Linked DNA regions of Homo sapiens: region 1 is linked to region 2. Evidence: fine-mapped expression QTL. A gene starts in region 2. The other region holds a variant in brackets. All regions are shown on one strand. Distances are between the middles of the regions. Region 1 overlaps NECTIN1 (nectin cell adhesion molecule 1). Region 2 holds the start of NECTIN1 (nectin cell adhesion molecule 1).

Region 1 (8,000 bases), 54 kb after region 2:
AGGACCACTGGGACTCGGGAGGCCAGTCTGCTGCCTTACAGAGGAGGAAGCTAGGGCTCAGAAAGGGGAGGTGACTGGCCACGGTCCCACTGCCTGCTAAAGGCAGAGGCAGGCTACAGCCCAGCCTTCCCAACTCGTGGCTGGATACTTCTCCCATCGTATTCCCAACCCATGGGGCCTCTGCCCAGGGAGCATCAGCTCCGAAGCACCCCACAGGCTGGCAGAGGGAACAGCTGGAGGAGTGAGGGTGGGGATAGGCCTGATGGACCTTGAGGGCTGTGTGGATGTGAATCAGCACAGAGAAGGGGGAACCTCAGGGAAACTTTCAGAACACGGTAGGGCCTGGCTTGGTGAAGCCAAAGATAGACTTATTCAGCAAGCATTTCTTGAGTAGCTACTTTATGCTGAGCACCAGGGATACTGCAGTGACCTAGAGACCTGGCCTGTGGCCTCTCGAGCGGAAGAGAGGGGAGCAACTTACTGCACTGACCATGGGTTTTGGGGCCCTCAGAGGAGCCTGTGTTGCTACAATATCCCCGTCACGCTGAGGAGGTGAGTGAGCATAAGCCCCAAATTCCCACTCTTGGATCCCAGACTCCCTTGGGGGGTCATTTAGATCCTCCCCCTGCCTTGGGTCAGTACAGGTCCTGGTGTTATTAATGCTATTGATGACGCTCAATAAAGTGAGTGAAGTAAGGATACAAAGACATGAAGTATACAAATGACAGCAAGGACACGGCTTGTGGGGAGTTGCAGGACTCAGGAGAGAGCTGGAGTGTACAGCCTAGTGCTGAGGACAACCGCCCCACGTTAAGGGAGCTGAGCCAAGTTCAGGGGTAAGGAAGCCCAAAAAAAGGACATTCTAAAGGGGATAACACAACCCATGTGGAGACTGGAGGGAATTTCACTCCCTCCTTCTTGCAAATGTCTGCTCTCTTGACTTCCATTGCAATTTGTGTAGTAACAAATATTTACTAGCATCTGCTATGTGCCAGATGCTGCACTGGGCACTGGGGATACAGAGATGGAAAGGACAGACCCTGCCCTTGGAGGAGTTCACAGTCTGGTGGAGAAATCAGATGTGTAACCACCACCTTCCAAGGCAGGAAAGAACCAAGGTAGAGGTGGCCAGGTTAGCTCTGGTGGGGAAGATCAGGGAAGCTCCCAGGAGGAGGTGGCCTCAGGGGGCCATCCACAGGTGGAGAAGGGGAAGGGCCATCTAGGTGGAGGGAGCTGCCTGGGTAAGAGTCTAGGAGTGTTGGGTGGATAGGCTCTGTGCTCCATGGAGGCCGGGACTCAATTGCTCCTTGATATGACCCAAATGCTCACACTAGATCCTGGAATATGTCACTCGGCAAATCGTGGCTGAATAAATGGGAGGAAGAGGGAAGGAAACCGGGAATGTGGCATGTTCTGAGGATGGGCCCAGTCTGGTATGGTGGGAAAGTGTGGCTGATGGAGAGATGTGGACAAGAGGCAGGTGCAAGGAGGTCTTGCCAAGAGAAGGCATTTACATTTGGCTGTGAAGGCCATGGGGAGCCAGCGGAGGCCTGGCCTTATGCAGTGCCCACTTCCCTCTGCCTAGCTGGGTAAGAGGGGCCCAGCTAGTGCACCCCAGGGGATGGGGACTCAGCTGCGAGGGAGAAGACAGCAGGGGTGGCCATGATGACAGCCACCGTGGGCCTTCAAGCTCATCCAGAGCCTCCTGCCTCTGACGCACCTTCTCGTCCATCACGCCATTTGTTTCCCCCAGTAACCTCGTGAGGTAGAGAGGACTGGATTCTCCACCCCATATAACAGAGGAGGAAACCAAGGCCCAGGAAGACAAAGCAGCCAGTGCATGGCTCCTAGGCTGGGGCTCTGCTCGAAAAGCAACCAAAAATGAGGGTGCAGACGTATGTTTACTAACACAGAGTGATGTTTATAATCTATCCCTAAGTAAAAAAGCAGCTTATGGGATAATATGTACAGCATGATTCTGACTTTTTAAAATAGATAGATGGTTATGTGGATATACACAGATATAAAGTAAAAGGAGATAGATCCTTCAAGATTATCCTGAGCGGAAGGATCATGGGATGTTGTCACTTTCTTCTCATGATTTTTCAGTGTTGCCTAGAGTGTTTTTATAACAAGTAATTAATATTTTTACAATCGGAATAAAAACAATAATGACTGCTATAAAAGACAAGGCCAGAGCACAGGGAACTGTGTGGGTGGGGGGAGGCTGTGCCTGACACTGACCACTTGCTGCCATCCTCCTGGCCAGGCGTCCACTCCCAGGTGGTCCAGGTGAACGACTCCATGTATGGCTTCATCGGCACAGACGTGGTTCTGCACTGCAGCTTTGCCAACCCGCTTCCCAGCGTGAAGATCACCCAGGTCACATGGCAGAAGTCCACCAATGGCTCCAAGCAGAACGTGGCCATCTACAACCCATCCATGGGCGTGTCCGTGCTGGCTCCCTACCGCGAGCGTGTGGAATTCCTGCGGCCCTCCTTCACCGATGGCACTATCCGCCTCTCCCGCCTGGAGCTGGAGGATGAGGGTGTCTACATCTGCGAGTTTGCTACCTTCCCTACGGGCAATCGAGAAAGCCAGCTCAATCTCACGGTGATGGGTAAGCTGCCCTGGGCCCCCTCCCTGTTCATCCAGAGGCCTGTGACCTCGGGGCGTGGCCATCCTCAGGATGCCTCAATGACCCCAGACATCCCCCTTGGGTGGGCATGCTGCCATCATTCTAGGCATGAGGCTTCCAGTCCCTTCTAGCCAGGCCACCCCACAATTCACTAGGGATTAGGGGCAGGGGCTTATCTCTAGACAGTGGGGAACGTGATTCTTCAGGTTGAAGCCCACAAGGCACTGTGCTGGCAGCAGCATCAGACACCACGGTAAGGAAAGGAGCCACCTGCGCTGCTTGCCTTAGACATGCTGGGACTCCAGGAGGCCTAAGCTCGATGACAGGGATATGACTAGTAGGGCAGGGAGGACATAACGTTAGACATGATGAACTTCCTGCAAGAGGTTCTGGGACAGTCTTTGGTGCAGCACAGCTGAGAGGCAGGGATGGCCAAGGGGACCTGAAGACAAGGCCTGACGGATGCCACGCCCTTTTGGCCGGTGCATCTTGGACAAGTCAACAGGGCTAGTCCCATCACTCTCTCTGCTTCCTCGCAGCCAAACCCACCAATTGGATAGAGGGTACCCAGGCAGTGCTTCGAGCCAAGAAGGGGCAGGATGACAAGGTCCTGGTGGCCACCTGCACCTCAGCCAATGGGAAGCCTCCCAGTGTGGTATCCTGGGAAACTCGGTTAAAAGGTGAGGCAGAGTACCAGGAGATCCGGAACCCCAATGGCACAGTGACGGTCATCAGCCGCTACCGCCTGGTGCCCAGCAGGGAAGCCCACCAGCAGTCCTTGGCCTGCATCGTCAACTACCACATGGACCGCTTCAAGGAAAGCCTCACTCTCAACGTGCAGTGTGAGCAGGGCTGGCTGCCAGGGGCCTCCTGGGGTGGGCGCCACTGTCCCTCCTCCCTCCTCCTCTCCTTTCTCCTCCCTTTCTCTTTCTGGGGGTGCTTTCTTCTCCCCTCCTGTCTCCCCTATCTCCTCCCTTTGCTCGTTTTCTCTCCTCCTTCCCTGTCGCCCTCCTGTTTCCACTCCCGGGCTCTGTGATTGCCACCCTCCCACCCA[C/T]ACTTCCCTCTCTCCTGGCTGTTTCCATGCCACTGCTCCTTCCATCCCTTCCTGGCTGAAGTTCCCTTGTTCTAAGTCCCGCTCTCCTGACCTCACCCTCTTCAAACATCCCTTGCCCCACAGATGAGCCTGAGGTAACCATTGAGGGGTTTGATGGCAACTGGTACCTGCAGCGGATGGACGTGAAGCTCACCTGCAAAGCTGATGCTAACCCCCCAGCCACTGAGTACCACTGGACCACGTAAGTGCTGCAGGGCTGACCAGTCACCTTGGAAGACAGCTGACTGGACCACGGGTGATGAGGGGCAACCATCCTACCTCCAGGAGCCTTTAGGCAGGGAAGAAATTAGGGTCTGGGCTCAGTAAGAAGCGGGGCCATGAGAGAACAACCCCCACCCCCAACACACACATATACATTACGTCCATGTGTGACAGTGTCAAGGTCAATGGAACAAGCTATTCTGCCAGAGGGGTTTCCTTTGTGATCTGCTTCCCTCCCTCTTCCTAATAAAGAGTTTTGTCGTTTTCCTTTGGTGATTCAGTCTGAGTCACTCCCACCCCAACCCCCCAGTATTTATTTTTATCAAGGTGTCCCCAGGGAAGCCAGTGTTCTGGAGCATCTCAGCTCTTTCTTTGTCCCTATTCCTTCTCTCTGGCACCCCCAGATTCTTGGGGAGGAGGCAGCAGCCAGCCTAGAATGCCTGTGCTCATGGAGCACGTGCCCTGCGGCCCACCATCCCCTTCTTGGCCTCACGGTCTTCGCCTTGCCTTGCCTTCGCCTTCTCCCCTCCAGCCGGCTCTGACAGCTGGGGCCAAGGCTCTTCCCAGAGAAGAGCTGGATGGAACACACAGAAAGACAGGGACGTGGGGAACCAAGGAGAAGGTTGATATGGGTGGCCAGGAGACAGCTGCCCAGAAGGAGTCTGCCTTCTTTTTCTGGGGAGCAGAGGGCACTGGTATGCCCTACCTATGATCCTCCACTTCCTGGAATAAAAAGTGCTTCTGAAGGTGTGAGTGGGCAGAGCCTGCTGGCTGGTTTCAGCTCTGTGGACCCAGGAGCTGCTAGGTTCAACAGAATAGCTTTGTGGCCTTTGAGGGTCAGGAGGAAGGAAGAAGATCCTTTGTCCTTGGCAAATTTGCAAGTCACTTCCCACATGAAAAGGTCCTGTGACATTCCCAGCAAAAACACAAAGTAGTGGAATGGAACATACTTCCTATCTCGTTACCTGAGTGGCTTGTCAAATACAGATTCCCAGGTCTTTGCCCCAGTGGTTCTGCTTCAGGAGATCTGGGGTTAGAACCAAGGCATCTGTATTATTATTTTTTTTTTTTTCTTTGAGACGGATTTTCACTCTGTCACCCAGGCTGGAGTGCAATGGCGCAATCTTGGCTCACTGCAACCTCCGCCTCCCAGGTTCAAGCAGTTCTTCTGCCTCACCCTCCCGAGTAACTGGGACTACAGGCGTGCACCACCACACCCAGCTAATTTTTGTACTTTTAGTAGAGATGGGGTTTCACCATATTGGCCAAGCTGGTCTCAAACTCCTGACCATGTGATCTGCCTGCCTCGGCCTCCCAAAGTGCTGGGATTACAGGCGTGAGCCACCACACCTGGCTGGCATCTGTATTATTAACCAGCTGCCCAGGAGACCAAGGACCAACAACCATGAGACGTGAATGGAAAGTAGAAAGAGCACTTTACCAGGAGTCCCGAGAATTGGCTGGAGCTCCCATGCTGCTGCCTGCTAGCTGTGGTTCCCTGGCCTTGAACCTCAGGTTTCATCTGTTAAGGGGGACCGGCACCTACCTAGCCTGCCTATATTCCCATATTATGATCAAATATGAAAAGCTGAATAATATAAAACTACCAAGTGAAAGAGATTATTATTATTATTTTTCTTCCTTCAAAGACAGACTCTACCACACAAGCTCAGCAAAAGGCTAGGGGGCCTGGAGCCAAGTGGGTGACCCAGGAACAGCTTCTTGAGGCTGGAGAGTCATAACCCTACGCTGTGTCTCCCACTTCCCACAGGCTAAATGGCTCTCTCCCCAAGGGTGTGGAGGCCCAGAACAGAACCCTCTTCTTCAAGGGACCCATCAACTACAGCCTGGCAGGGACCTACATCTGTGAGGCCACCAACCCCATCGGTACACGCTCAGGCCAGGTGGAGGTCAATATCACAGGTAGGAAGCTGCATCCTCCCCAGCCTCTCCGCACCCACGGGTTCCTTCGCCACCTGCATCCCTCACCTTTGAGCAATGCCACTGCAGGAAGATTATCTCCTTTTCCTGCTTCTCTAGTTCTCCCTTGAGCTCTGGCCATTGGTTTTGCTTTGCTTTTCTCTTTCTTTCATTAAAGGGTGCAAATGAGACAGTCAGGGTGACCCCCAATCAGAGAGGGGCAGGAGGAAGGCTCTGAGAGGGAAGAAGGAAGTGCTGTTTACAGCAATGCTGTTTTGGGGGCCAATAGAACCTGCCCGTAGATCTGCCAGCAGAACACGCTGTGGGATGCTGGCATGGTGGGGATAGGTTTGCAGGTGGAGCTCATCTCCTCCAAGCTCTGCACCTGTGGTCAAGGACCTCTTCATGGGCCAGAAAGTGAGGCTTACCTCAAGCAGGGAGACTGGAGAGAAAGCGAAGATGTAGCCCAAAGCCATAGTGCTTTGTGTGCCCTGCAACTGAGCTTTCCCTGCAGCTTTCTGTCAACTTATCTATCCGGGCAAAGGGAGGACAAGAGCTAGGATGTTCTGAGGAGAGACTTCACCTGGGACGTGAAAGGAGCATGGGCTTGATGTCAGACAGCTGTGACCCTGGACAGGGCCCCCCCCACCATCTGTAAAACGGGGACAGTATGATGTACCTTGAAGGGCTGTTGTCAGAATTCTACGTGATGTAAGTCAAGCACCTAGCACAGATCAGTCTGTCAATAAATGGCCAATGTTCCGTGATTATTACCCTGACCTCCATCATCATCATTATTATTAATGGAAGCATCAAAACAAGTCCACACAGGGGTAAACTGCCATCACAACTTCACATGGGGAGCGTCTTTTACAGTGGACCTGAGCTATCTGCAGGGTGACAGGGTGACCGAGTGTCTTAAAAAAGGAAGTGGTGTCCCACTGTGACTGAGATATAGGAAGTAACATGCTCAGGGACACAGAAGACTGGTCGGCAGTTGCTGGGCTCCGGCCACAAAGCCACTGCACACCTGCAAGCCACGAGGATTCATGAGCTCTGAGCCAGTGTCTCGGGAGTGGGAGACCTCATTTGTGGGTATATTTAGGACACAGCTGCAGAAAGAGCCACGTGAAGTTGTCCAGGGTCTGCGCCTACCTGTCCTCAGAGCCGTTCTGTCACGTCTCTCACCCAGGGGCGGGAGTGTGGAGCCACCTGCTGTTGTCTGCAATCCCTGGCCTTGGCCCCGAGACTAGTCATAGGAGGAGGAGCATCAGGGTTGGAGCCTGGGGAAAGCTGGGGGGTTTCCACGGGTTGGCAGGTGGAAGGGGCCGGTGTCACACACTTCTCCCCAGCGGGGAAGGTCCAAGTACAGCTCAAAATGAGCCTCATGGTTACCCAAGCTCCAGCTCTGAGATACTGGGGGAGTCAAGGGGGAGGTGGGAAGGGCAGGGCCTGTGTTCCATGTGGAGTGGCCATAGGGAACATGACCACCCCTCAGGGAGGCACTGTCACATGGGAGACAGCACAGACCTGGCCTGAGTGTTCACACACTGGCTCTTCCTAGCTGTGTGGCCTTGAGCAAGTGCTTCACCTCTCTGAGCCTTGGCTTCCTAACCTCTGATATGGGGATACTCACACTTGTCTCAGGCTTCTTACGATCATGCAGTACTCCCTGCGTGGTGATACCTTCCCCTGATGGTGGGCTATCAACATGTGAGGGGTGTGGGCTGGGGGCAGGAGGGCCGGGCCACCTAGGGTCCCAGCTGGAAGAGGGACACAACATGGCTCTTGCTGGCAGCCCCGTTAGGCAGGAGCCAGGGACGCATGGCACTCACTGAATCATTGATAGGCCCAGGCGCTGAGCGGCTGGCCTCTCTCGGAAGGGACTCTCAGCCCCCTCCAGAGGACTCAGGGAGTTGGCCTGAGCCTTCTCAGGGCTGTTTGTTCTTGTGCTCTCAGGCAATTTCCAAGCAGCAGCTGACCTCACCACCCTCCATTCCACGTCGGCCCGTGCCTGCCACATTCTCTGGGGAGCCCACCCCGCAGGGCACAGCCATGCCCTTGCTCTAAGCCCCACTGGTCCAGAGGGAATGCATGAGCGAGAGGGATAAGTGGAAATTTAATTTT
Region 2 (10,000 bases):
GCCGCCTCTACTCACAACCAGAATTCTTTAGGATTTGGGACGTCATGATTCACAGAAGTATACTGAGGGCCTTCTGACCAGACACAAGGCATAGAACAATTTCCCTTCTTTCTGGAGAGTTAGATGGTTCAAGATGGAACTTGGGCCTTCCTATCACCTCTCAGAGCTCAGCCCCAAAAGCCATGCAGATCGCTGGGACACCATGGCCCACAAGGGAGAGGCTGGTGTCTGTTAACCATCCTGGCAGCACTTCAACACAGTGGATCATTGGACTGGGGAGTGGGTGCAGCTGTGTGTAGTTGCTCCATCCCCAAGAGCAATGGCAGCCAAGACTCTGCAGTGATCTCCATAGGAATAACAGTAATTAAATGTTGCTAAGCGCTGTGGGATACAGAGGCACCATCATAATCACCACAGCCACCAGCGTGATGACCATAGTAATTAGGTGCTGTGGCTTCCCATCTACCCTGGGAGCACTGCCTGAGGTGAGGTTGGCCTCAGGTTAGGGCAAGAGGGTAGCCATGCCAGCTGGGTCCTCTTTGGGGTTGGCTAAGGCTTCAGCCATACTTTCTTCATGGGATTCCTCCTCCTTTCCTCTCCCCTTGCTCTCAGCCTCAACTGACACCAGGGTAAGGACTGGGGACACAAAAGGGGGTGACCCCCATCCAGCATGCCACTCCAACATATCTTCTCCTATTGACAGATTTCAGGGGATTGGGGAATCTTGGGGAATTCTTAATAGGGCTCCTCTCACATCAAAGTGAACTTTATTAGCCAATTTCTGAATGACACAGAGGGGCCTGGGATATGACCAGGAGGGGAAGTCATTACTGTATTGACTTTGGGCCTTTTCCAAGCCCAACAGCTGCCTCTCTGAAAGAACCTGTGGAAGTCAAGGGAGGGCTCAGAGGAGAGTTTCCTAGGGATGGTACGTTCCCCAGGGCTGATCTCGTCTAGTCTCCCCACCTCATGCCTCCAGTCCTGAGGTGGGTGAGAAAGGTGAGCCCAACTGCCTGCTCTTCAAGTGGGCTGTCATTCCTGCAGTTATCAAGTCTCAGGGCCAGGAGGGAACATGGAACTCATTGCATCCATGCTCCATGCCAGGGCAAGAAGCCCATGCACAGCATGCCTGATGAACGGGCTTGCAGCCTGAGTCTGAAAAGTGACTGGGAGGTCAATCCATTGTCGGTCAACTAAGATCCCTCAACAGTCTTGCCTAGATTAAACTGAAATCTACCTCCCCCAAAAATATGACCATTGGTCCTGACTTTTCCCTATGAAGACACACAGATGATGCTTGCTCCTTTCTCCCTATAGATTTTGGAAGCTTGGTAGTCATACCCCACTTAACACTCCCTTTGGCCTTCTCAATTGTGAAGTCTGAAGCCGCTTTCCAACCTCTCTCTGCAGATAACTTCAGCTCCCACTGTACTGCAATGACCTTATTATAAACTTCCCCCTTCACTACTCCACCCCAAAACTTCCACCTTCACTACTCTCTTCACCTTCCCTCCAGGCTCAGAGAAAGATGGGTCTTCTCCTTTCCAAGGCTGACCCCTTCCCACCCTCAGTGCCCCCCAACCCAGGACTTGCTCCATAAATGACACCCTATTTCACTTCTTACACTTGCTTCTCCACTCCCTCACTGTCCACTAGCTCTTTTCCTTCTGACTACAAGATGCTCAGTAGCTTTTGATTTCCGATGAAAAAGGAGAAAATAAGCCTCTTGGTCTGTCTTGCTAACCCTCTCCGAGCTTCTCATCCACCTTGCTCATTCCGTCCGCCACCAAACTTCTCAAAAGCAGAGAGGATACCTGCTGCCTCTGCTTTTTCACCTTCCAGTTGCTCCTCCTCCCACTTTGATCTGGGTTCAGCCCCTGCCTAGTCACCAACATCCCTCTCTCAAAGGTCACTGGTGGTTTTGCCACTGCTTCCAAAGACCCCTTCTGATCCCCACCTGCTTTCTGCAGCATCAGACACTGTTAGCAACCTCCTCCACCTCCTCTATTAAATCCTCTTCTCACTTGGCTTCCATGACAACCCTCTCTCCTCACTCCCCTCCTCCTTCACTGACCAATCATCATCTGTCCATCCTACCCACGTTGTTGCCAGATTCATCTCCTGAAGCATAGCTCTGACAGTTCCCAATAAGTGCTTCTCTGTTCAGAAACTTTCCATGGCTCCCCACTGCCTGCAAAAATAAATAAATAAATAATGGAGTTGTAAAATCATGCAACTATATGTAATTCATAATATACAATAATCTGTCACGTTTTCAAACCTTTTTAAGCAGCAGAATCTTCAAAATCCATTAAGAGATATCTTTCTCAAAAGCCCAATTTTCAAGCACATGAAAACACATGCTCTTTAAATGTGGCTCCTGTTGAGCCCAGGAAATTCTAGGGTTTCCAAAACACAACTGGAAAACCAGTGAACAAATTAAACTCCTCAGTCTGCAGATGAGAAAACTGAGGTCCAGAGAGGGGAAGTGATTGGCAGAAAGTGGCACAGGATGTGAGTTAATCAACACATTTTCATTACAAGCCTATCAGGTACCAGGCATGTTCTAGGTGCCAGAGATATAGCAGAGAACAACAGCAACATGATCCCTGCCCTGGAGGAGCTGACAGTCTAATGGGGAGTGAATCAGGCACTATAAACCATCACGAAAGTGGTCCCAAGTATGCAAAGTCTATAGCAGGGGATGATTGGAAATCCCAGTGGCTCCTCCTTGAAGCCTCAGAGCAGGGTGAGATGAGGCTGCAGAAGCAGGCATGGGCCCCTTAGGCCTTGTTGAGGACTTGACACTGGTCTAAGAGTCTGGCAGGCCAAGAAATTGTTCCTGGGCATTGCAACTTGACCATCTGCATTTGAAAATAATCCACTACTAAATGTAATGTTGTATCCTGGATTAAATTGTGGAACAAAAAATAGACATTAGTGGGAAAAAACCTGGGGAAATCTGAATAAATTCTGTAGTTCAGTTAATAGTATTATACTAACACTAATTTCTTAGTTTTGATAGATGTACCATGGTTCTATAAGATGTTAACATTCAGGGAAGATGAATGAAGGGCATATGAAAACTCTGTACCATTTTCACAACTCTATTGCAAATCCAAAATTATTTCAAAATAAAGCTTGTAAAATATATATAAACCATTTTCAGGAAGGGGAAAACTGGATGTGGAGAGACAGATGACAATAATAATGATGACTAATACTTAGACAGTTTTTACTGTACACCAGGCATTGTTCCATGCACTTCACATGTTTGGCTCAAGGCTCATTTAATCCTCACAACTTCAAGAGGTAGGTGCTCTTATTTCTCCCTGTTTTACAGAGAAGGTACCTGAGCACAGAGAAGTTAAGTCACTTGCCCAAGGACACATAGCTATTGGGTGTCAGAGCTGGAGTTTAAGAATTCCAATCCAGGCAGATTAGCTCTCCAGAGTTCCATGTGCTGGACTGTTACATTTTACTCCCCATCTCAGTGCAGACTGGCTATACTGTCAGAAAGTATTGTAAAGACCAGGTAGAAATCATGAGTGCATGGACTAGATTAATAACAGGAGAAATGGAGCAATGTCACTAGACTTTATATATATATATATAAAGAATATATATATATAAAGGATATATATATATAAAGGATATATATATATATCTCAGGGGCATATCAGGGGCATATCAATGTCACTAGACTATATATATATATATAAAGGATATATATATATATATATATCTCAGGGGCAGAATCAACAAAATTGGAACATGGTGGTTCAGGAAGAGGTAAGAAGCAAGAGTGACTCCTGGGCTCACAGCTTAAGAGCAGGAACCAAAGCCTGCTTTCCTGCTGCTTGATCCTGTGTTTCTTCCCTGTCACTAAAGGAAACCTTCTGGTCCTTTTGCCTTCTGTTTGCGCCTACCTGTCCCTTTCTCTTATACATCTCTAAAACGCAAAACAAACTGGAATGCCTACTGTCCTAACACAGGTGGCACCTCTCCCACCTCCACGCACCTCCATGTTCTTGTACAAGCTGTTCCTTCCACTTAGGAGTCTCTCTCCTGCCTCTTTTGGTCCAAATCTGATCTGTCCTTCAGGGTCTCAGTTAAATGTCCCCTCCCCCAGCAACCTTCCCTGCTTGTTTAAAGATGATGAGTGAACAACCATACTATATCACTTACTTGCTTCCATCTTCTCCACCCAACCAATCCCCAGGCAGCCACATCTTCCCTGCTGGCCGCACCCTCTTTGGAAGCTCATTTAAGATCAGAGGATCAAAGAAGCCTGACCTAAAGATGGAGAGAGTGCAGCCGGGTACAGTGGCTCATGCCTGTAATCCCAGCACTTTGGGACACCAAGGAGGGCAGGTCACCTGAGGTCAGGAGTTCCAGACCAGCCTGGCCAACATGGAGAAACCCCGTCTCTACTAAAAATACAAAAATTAGCCGGGCGTGGTGGCACACACCTGTAATTCCAGCTACTCGGGAGGCTGAGACAGGAGAAACACTTGAACCTGGGAGACAGAGGTTGCAGTGAGGTGAGATGGCGCCACTGCACTCCAGCCTGGGCAACAGAGCAAGACTCTGTCTCAATGAAATAAAATAAAATAAAATTAAATTAAATTAAAATAAAATAAAATAAAATAAAATAAATAAAATAAAATAAAATAAAATAAAATAAAGATGGAGAGGATGGGAGGGTAAGAGCAGGGAACAAGAAGACATTGGTACATCTGGGATTGCCCCTTCAAACCATGCCTTCAGCTCCTGCAGTGTGCCTGGCACAGAGCTAAAGGCCATCACAATGAATTCAATTCAACCCTGGCCCTTAAAGCACTCAGCAGCCAGATGGGAGATTCCCAGCTGCCACAAACTAAATCTGATAGCGTGTTCCCCAGTTTAAAACCCTCCTAGCAGCTACCGGGCATGATTCACGAATCTGCAGACCTCTCCTTTCCTCAAGTCTTAGGCTCAGGCTAAACCAGTCAACCCTTTGTGGGCCCCCTACTCACCTGACTATTGCTTACCTTCATTCCTTTGCTCGTGCTGACCCTCTACCTTAAATCCAGTCTCTTTTATGTCTCTGCCCTCCAGCACTTACCTTGGTCTGATAGATGACTCACCGAGACCCTGTGTTCGCTTCCCTGAAGCCTTTACACCAACCCCACCCCGGGCTAAACTGGGCACTTTTTCTGTGACCCACCAAACCCACACAATCCCATATTAAATATTTGTTTACGACATCCGTTTCTATGTCTGTCTTCCCCCACCCTTCAACTAGATTGAGTTCCTTCAGGACAATGATGATGTCTCTGTATCCCCAAGCCAGGCACTGTGTTTTGACACAAAGAAAGCCCAGGTTACATTTGTTAAATGTAAAAGACCATACAGTGAGTGGGTGAGTGTTCATGACAATGCCAGATCTGACTACTTCCGCGAGAAACCGAGACACTCCAGGGCCGGATTCCAGACAGTGGGAATATGGCGCTGTCTTTGCCCCTTCTCCAGTGAGGAACCAGAATTTACGTGTTATCAGAAACAGCCACTTCCCCTCTGCTCCTGCCCGCCTAGAGGGCTGGGCAAAGGGTAGAGGGAGCAGTGTCCGGCCAGGGTCTGGGGAGAATTCGGCTCTCCTTAGTGGGAAACTCTGTCTGTCTTCCTCCCCCAGGGGGAGGGGATGGGGATAGGAGGACCAGAGTAAGGGGAAGAGGGAAGGCCCGGAGGGCGCAGTCGCCTTGGCAGAAATCCTACCACACCCGGATGTAGTGGGTGGTGAACGGGATGGGGCGGAGAGTCCCTGCCCTGCCAGGGACACTGACTGGACGATCCACTTTCGCGGGAATCCCACAAATCTCTCAAAACTAAGGTCCTGGAAACTGGAGGAGAGCTCGTTTTCAGGCTATGTTTGGGCAAGGGCGGGGCGCGGGGTGCTTCAATTTTTGGAAAAGGAACCCCCGAAGGGAGCAGGGATTAGAAAAGAAACTCTACCAGAAACCTCAGTGGGCCCGTCTCACCCACTCATGCCCACCACTGACTTCTCTGGCAGCTCCCCGTCGCCCCGCGCACCGCTGCCTCTCCGTGGAACGTCCAAGTGGTGCAGAGGAGAGGGATCTCCGGAGACTGGGTTCTGTTGCGAGCTATGCCACGTTCCGTCCCGGGCGGAACTCTTCTTTGGGCCTTTGTTTCCTCGTCTGTGAAATGGGGCCAGGGTGGGAGCAGAGGGCTTGCAGAAGCCCTGCCAGCTCCCACGCTGCTAGCCGGGATTCTCCATCCCGCCCTCTCCTCCACCGCCGCCCCCGGCCCGGTCCTAACTCCACCCCCACCCGCCGCGCCTCGGCGCCGCCGGCCGCTAGGGGTCACTGCCTGCCTTTGTCAGCGGAGGAGGAGGGCAGCCCGCGCTCCAGCCGGCTCCCCAGCTGGAAGGCGGCCGAGGGGTAGCTCCCGAGCGAGGGTCCTGAGCCGGACCCCGCAGCCCGCGCTCGCGATCCGCCTCTGCTTCGGTCGGGAAGGCGCGTGCGCTCGGGCTCCGACCGGGCCCCGGCGGGCGCGCATCGAGGCCAGGAGGGGGTTAACGCTAACCCCTCCCCTCTGGCTGACATCACGGGCGAGCGGGTGAGAGGCTGGAGCTCGGCGAGTGAGAGAAAGAGAGCGAGAGCAGCGAGCGCGGCTCCACATTGTTGCGGATCGCCGGCACCCGGCAGAGCGGCGGCGGCTGGGACGCGCGGCGCCTCCGACCCGTTCTCCTCGCGCCCGGCCGCGCAGCCAGAGCCACCCGGGCCGCCGACCGCCGAGCCCCGCGCCCGCCGCCTGGGCCCCGAGCCTTCTGCGCCGCCCGGGTGCGTCCCGCCACCCTCGGAGGACGGCCGGCCATGGACGCCTGCAAGTTGGAGCCGAGCGGGAGGGTGTGAGCGGGCCGGGGCCAGGAGCCCGCGCCGCGCAACCGGGCAGCCGGGCGCGCCGGGGGTGGGTCCCTCTCCCCAGCCCCGCTCTGCGTGGAAGAAGAGGGCGGGGACCGGCGCCGGGAGGAGAGCGGAGGAGGCGAAGGGGCATGACTCGTGCAACTTGCGGCGGGCATCTGCCGAGCCTCTGAGCCGGCGGCGGCCCGGGGCCCGGACTGCGGCCGCGCGGATCCCACCCAGCCCACCCCGCCCCGGCCGACGGCTGCAGCTGACCTGGATCCTTCGAGCGCCCGCCGACCGCCAGCGATCTTCCCTCATCTTCCGGGCTGGTTTCTGCTGCGCGAGGAGCGCTGCCCTCGCCGCCCCTCTCGCCGGACCCCCGGCCCCCGATGGCTCGGATGGGGCTTGCGGGCGCCGCTGGACGCTGGTGGGGACTCGCTCTCGGCTTGACCGCATTCTTCCTCCCAGGTAAGAGCGCTCACCTCTGCTGTCCCCACCCCCATCCAATGCCTCCCCGGGGCTGGGAGCCGGATGGCGGGCACGACTGGATTGTGGGGAGTGAAAGGAGCCAGAAAAGTTGGGTCACGGCTTGGGTAAAGGGGGTGGGAGGTGGCACGGCGGAGAAAGAGGTTGAGAAGCCGAACCGCCTGCCCTGCAGGGAAGCAGTCAGATGCACGTCTCTATGTAGCATGAAAGCACTTTCTCCGCTCAGTTCTTTACAAAAAATAATAATATGTAATAGCGTTCTGTTTATTTAATAACCAGCTCTCTGCTCGGGAAGCAGTTTGGAAACACTGCGTGTTACATAAATGCAAAATAATCACCGTAATCACCGTCTTGGGGTGGGAGACAACAGCCCCAGGGGGAGGGCGTCAGTCTCGGAGCTGCGGGTTTGGAGTATGGCGGGGGGGCTTCGTCTCTTTCGGCGGCCCCTTTGCCAGACGGCTCAGGACGCTCGGGCCCCCTCCCGCCCCACACCGCCCCACAGCGGGCGCGGAGAGTCGGCTGCTGCGGCAGAGGCGGCTCCTCGCTCACCTGCGGTTCCTTTCCTGGAGGGTGAGGCCGGGGCAGCCTCCTCCCGGCCTGGCGCGGGACCGGGCTCCCCCTCGGAACTCTGCTCCCAGCTCTGGGGGCTCTCCCTGGAGGAGACACCGCGGGCTTCCTGCCATCCAAGTAGCTGCATGACCCACTTTCCCGAGGGTGCCCCGCGTGTCCTTCCTCGAGGTGCGGGCTGCCGGCAGCCGAGGGGTTAACCTCGCGCCCGACCCCGGGGTGGCCCTGGTGGCCCATTCTGACGGGTGGGGTGGGGACGGAGGCTGGGACCAGCCCAGGCATATTGTGCTGGGGAATGAACTGGAAAATGCGTTTAGGAGGCAAATCCGACCGAGTCCCCTCGCCTGGATTTAACCCTTTGTGTCCCTGGGGAAGCTGCCGAGCTCGCCGGCTGACTGGACACCAAGCGTGGGTCAAGGGGTGTGGGGAGTTCCTCCAGCTCTCTGGGTAGAAACCAGAGACGACCTGCAGCTCTAGCAAGATGGGATTTTGGGGAGGGGGGCGGATCTTGACTGGAGCACGTGGTCCCCGCCTTGGGGTGGCAGAATAGGGGGTCAGTGTACAGAGACCATCTCCTCGTGGGGCAGGAATATTAGATCCCGAGTTCCTGCAATGTGCTTTGCCGCAGAATGGCCAGGCAGTTTGTTATCGAGGGAACAGTCTGGCTGCCTAGTTCCGGGGCTAGGGTGCACTCCTGGAAGGCAGAAGCCTGGCCTCATTCCCTTCTATGCCTCTTCTGCTGCCAGCCAGCTCACTACGAGGGCCCCGCCAATCTCACTAAGTGGTGGATGTCTGGGAAGCAGTTTGTGAAAGCCAGTACTGGGGTGCCTCCACCCGTGAAGCCTGGGGTGCTGCCCTGCTCGATGTGGGGGGTGGGGAAAATCCAGGGCTCACAGGTGTCACTGCCCACCCTGCCCCCAGAGGGTGGTCTTGGTGAGAGTGAGAGGTCTTCTCACACTGGATGGCCTGGGAAGCCAGCCAGAGATACAGAAGTTCGGGCTCTAGGACTTGCCTGGCCATGGGGATTTGAGCTTCCAGGAACCCTTCAATTACATATGTCCACATCCGGAACCCAGAGAAACGAGAGCTTCCCAGAGCTCTGGTTGGTCCAGCACACTAGGGGTTAACGTAATCCTGGGATGGACAAAGGGTGGTGGGAAGGGTTGGGAGAAGGGGAAGGAACTCACCCTATTCTCCTTCCTTTTGTTATTCTCTTTCCCCAGCTTTGTGATTCCTTCATGGTTAATTCCTTCATTGGGGGCTAGAGGCCTGCTGTGCTCCACCCACTCAGGAAGTGGGAGCAGGGAGGTGAACTCACCTGGCTCAAGGTGGATACAACCCCTGCCAAAAATCTACATGAAAGGGTGGGATGCAGAGAAAGGAACCAGGGTTGAGAGAGGTACTTAATAAATGCTCTTCCATTGACTGTAATTGACTGATGGGTAGCATCCATGCACCGAAGTTCCCGGACCGCCCAGCTCCTCTGCCCAGTGGCTGGGCTCCTGGTGCCTTCTCTGCTTGCTTGCTCTAGGGTCCACGGGTGCAGGGAGGCAGGTGGATATGGTTGTGCCCAGTCTGACACTTGGATGGAGGCTGGTTGGCCCAGAAGTTGCAAGCCCACACCCTACTTTGCATCACCTGCTGGCTTCCTCCCCATTGCCCGCTATAGCGTCTCTCTAGGGACTTGCCAGTCTGATGCTCTTTTCAGGGTTTTCCTGGGCTGTGACAGGGAACCTGGGTCTGGGGGTTTGAGGAGAGGAAGAGGGAGGGGCCTGGAGTGTGTGTGATTGCCCCCAACTTCAAAACACTCCCAATCTGGCTATTGAAGTGTAAACACAGAAGTATGTTTTCAACAACACAGACTTTACTAAGCAGTGTGGTGAAGCCCCAAAGGCCTCTGTTTCCTGAGATGACAATCCACAGTTTCTTCCTGTTAACTTAGAGGAGAGGGTCAGTGGGGCAGGTGGGTTACATCCCAAAAAGAGATAGGGGGAGCCCTAGGAGGAGGCAGAGGACCTGCTTGAGAAGCAGGTGTGTCGAGC

What was found.
Region 1: its variant is fine-mapped to the expression of NECTIN1 in whole blood (TOPMed, PIP 0.95).

Annotation. Positions count from the first base shown.
Region 1 is chr11:119,673,035-119,681,034 of GRCh38, reverse strand. NECTIN1 (nectin cell adhesion molecule 1) reads left to right here. Exons shown (of 6, transcript NM_002855.5): 2 at 2,270-2,620; 3 at 3,178-3,480; 4 at 3,816-3,933; 5 at 5,725-5,876. Among named protein-coding and RNA genes, the nearest start is that of NECTIN1-AS1, 33 kb to the left of the region's middle. RefSeq lists enhancers at 4,022-4,316, 6,837-6,886, 6,907-7,456. The variant C/T (reference allele first, on the strand shown) is at 3,693.
Region 2 is chr11:119,725,848-119,735,847 of GRCh38, reverse strand. NECTIN1 (nectin cell adhesion molecule 1) reads left to right here and starts at 6,648. Exons shown (of 6, transcript NM_002855.5): 1 at 6,648-7,373. The coding sequence starts at 7,295. NECTIN1-DT (NECTIN1 divergent transcript) reads right to left here and starts at 6,265. Exons shown (of 4, transcript NR_120587.1): 1 at 6,042-6,265; 2 at 2,098-2,191. RefSeq lists enhancers at 5,602-6,462, 6,463-7,324, 8,124-9,066 and silencers at 6,263-6,672, 6,733-7,052.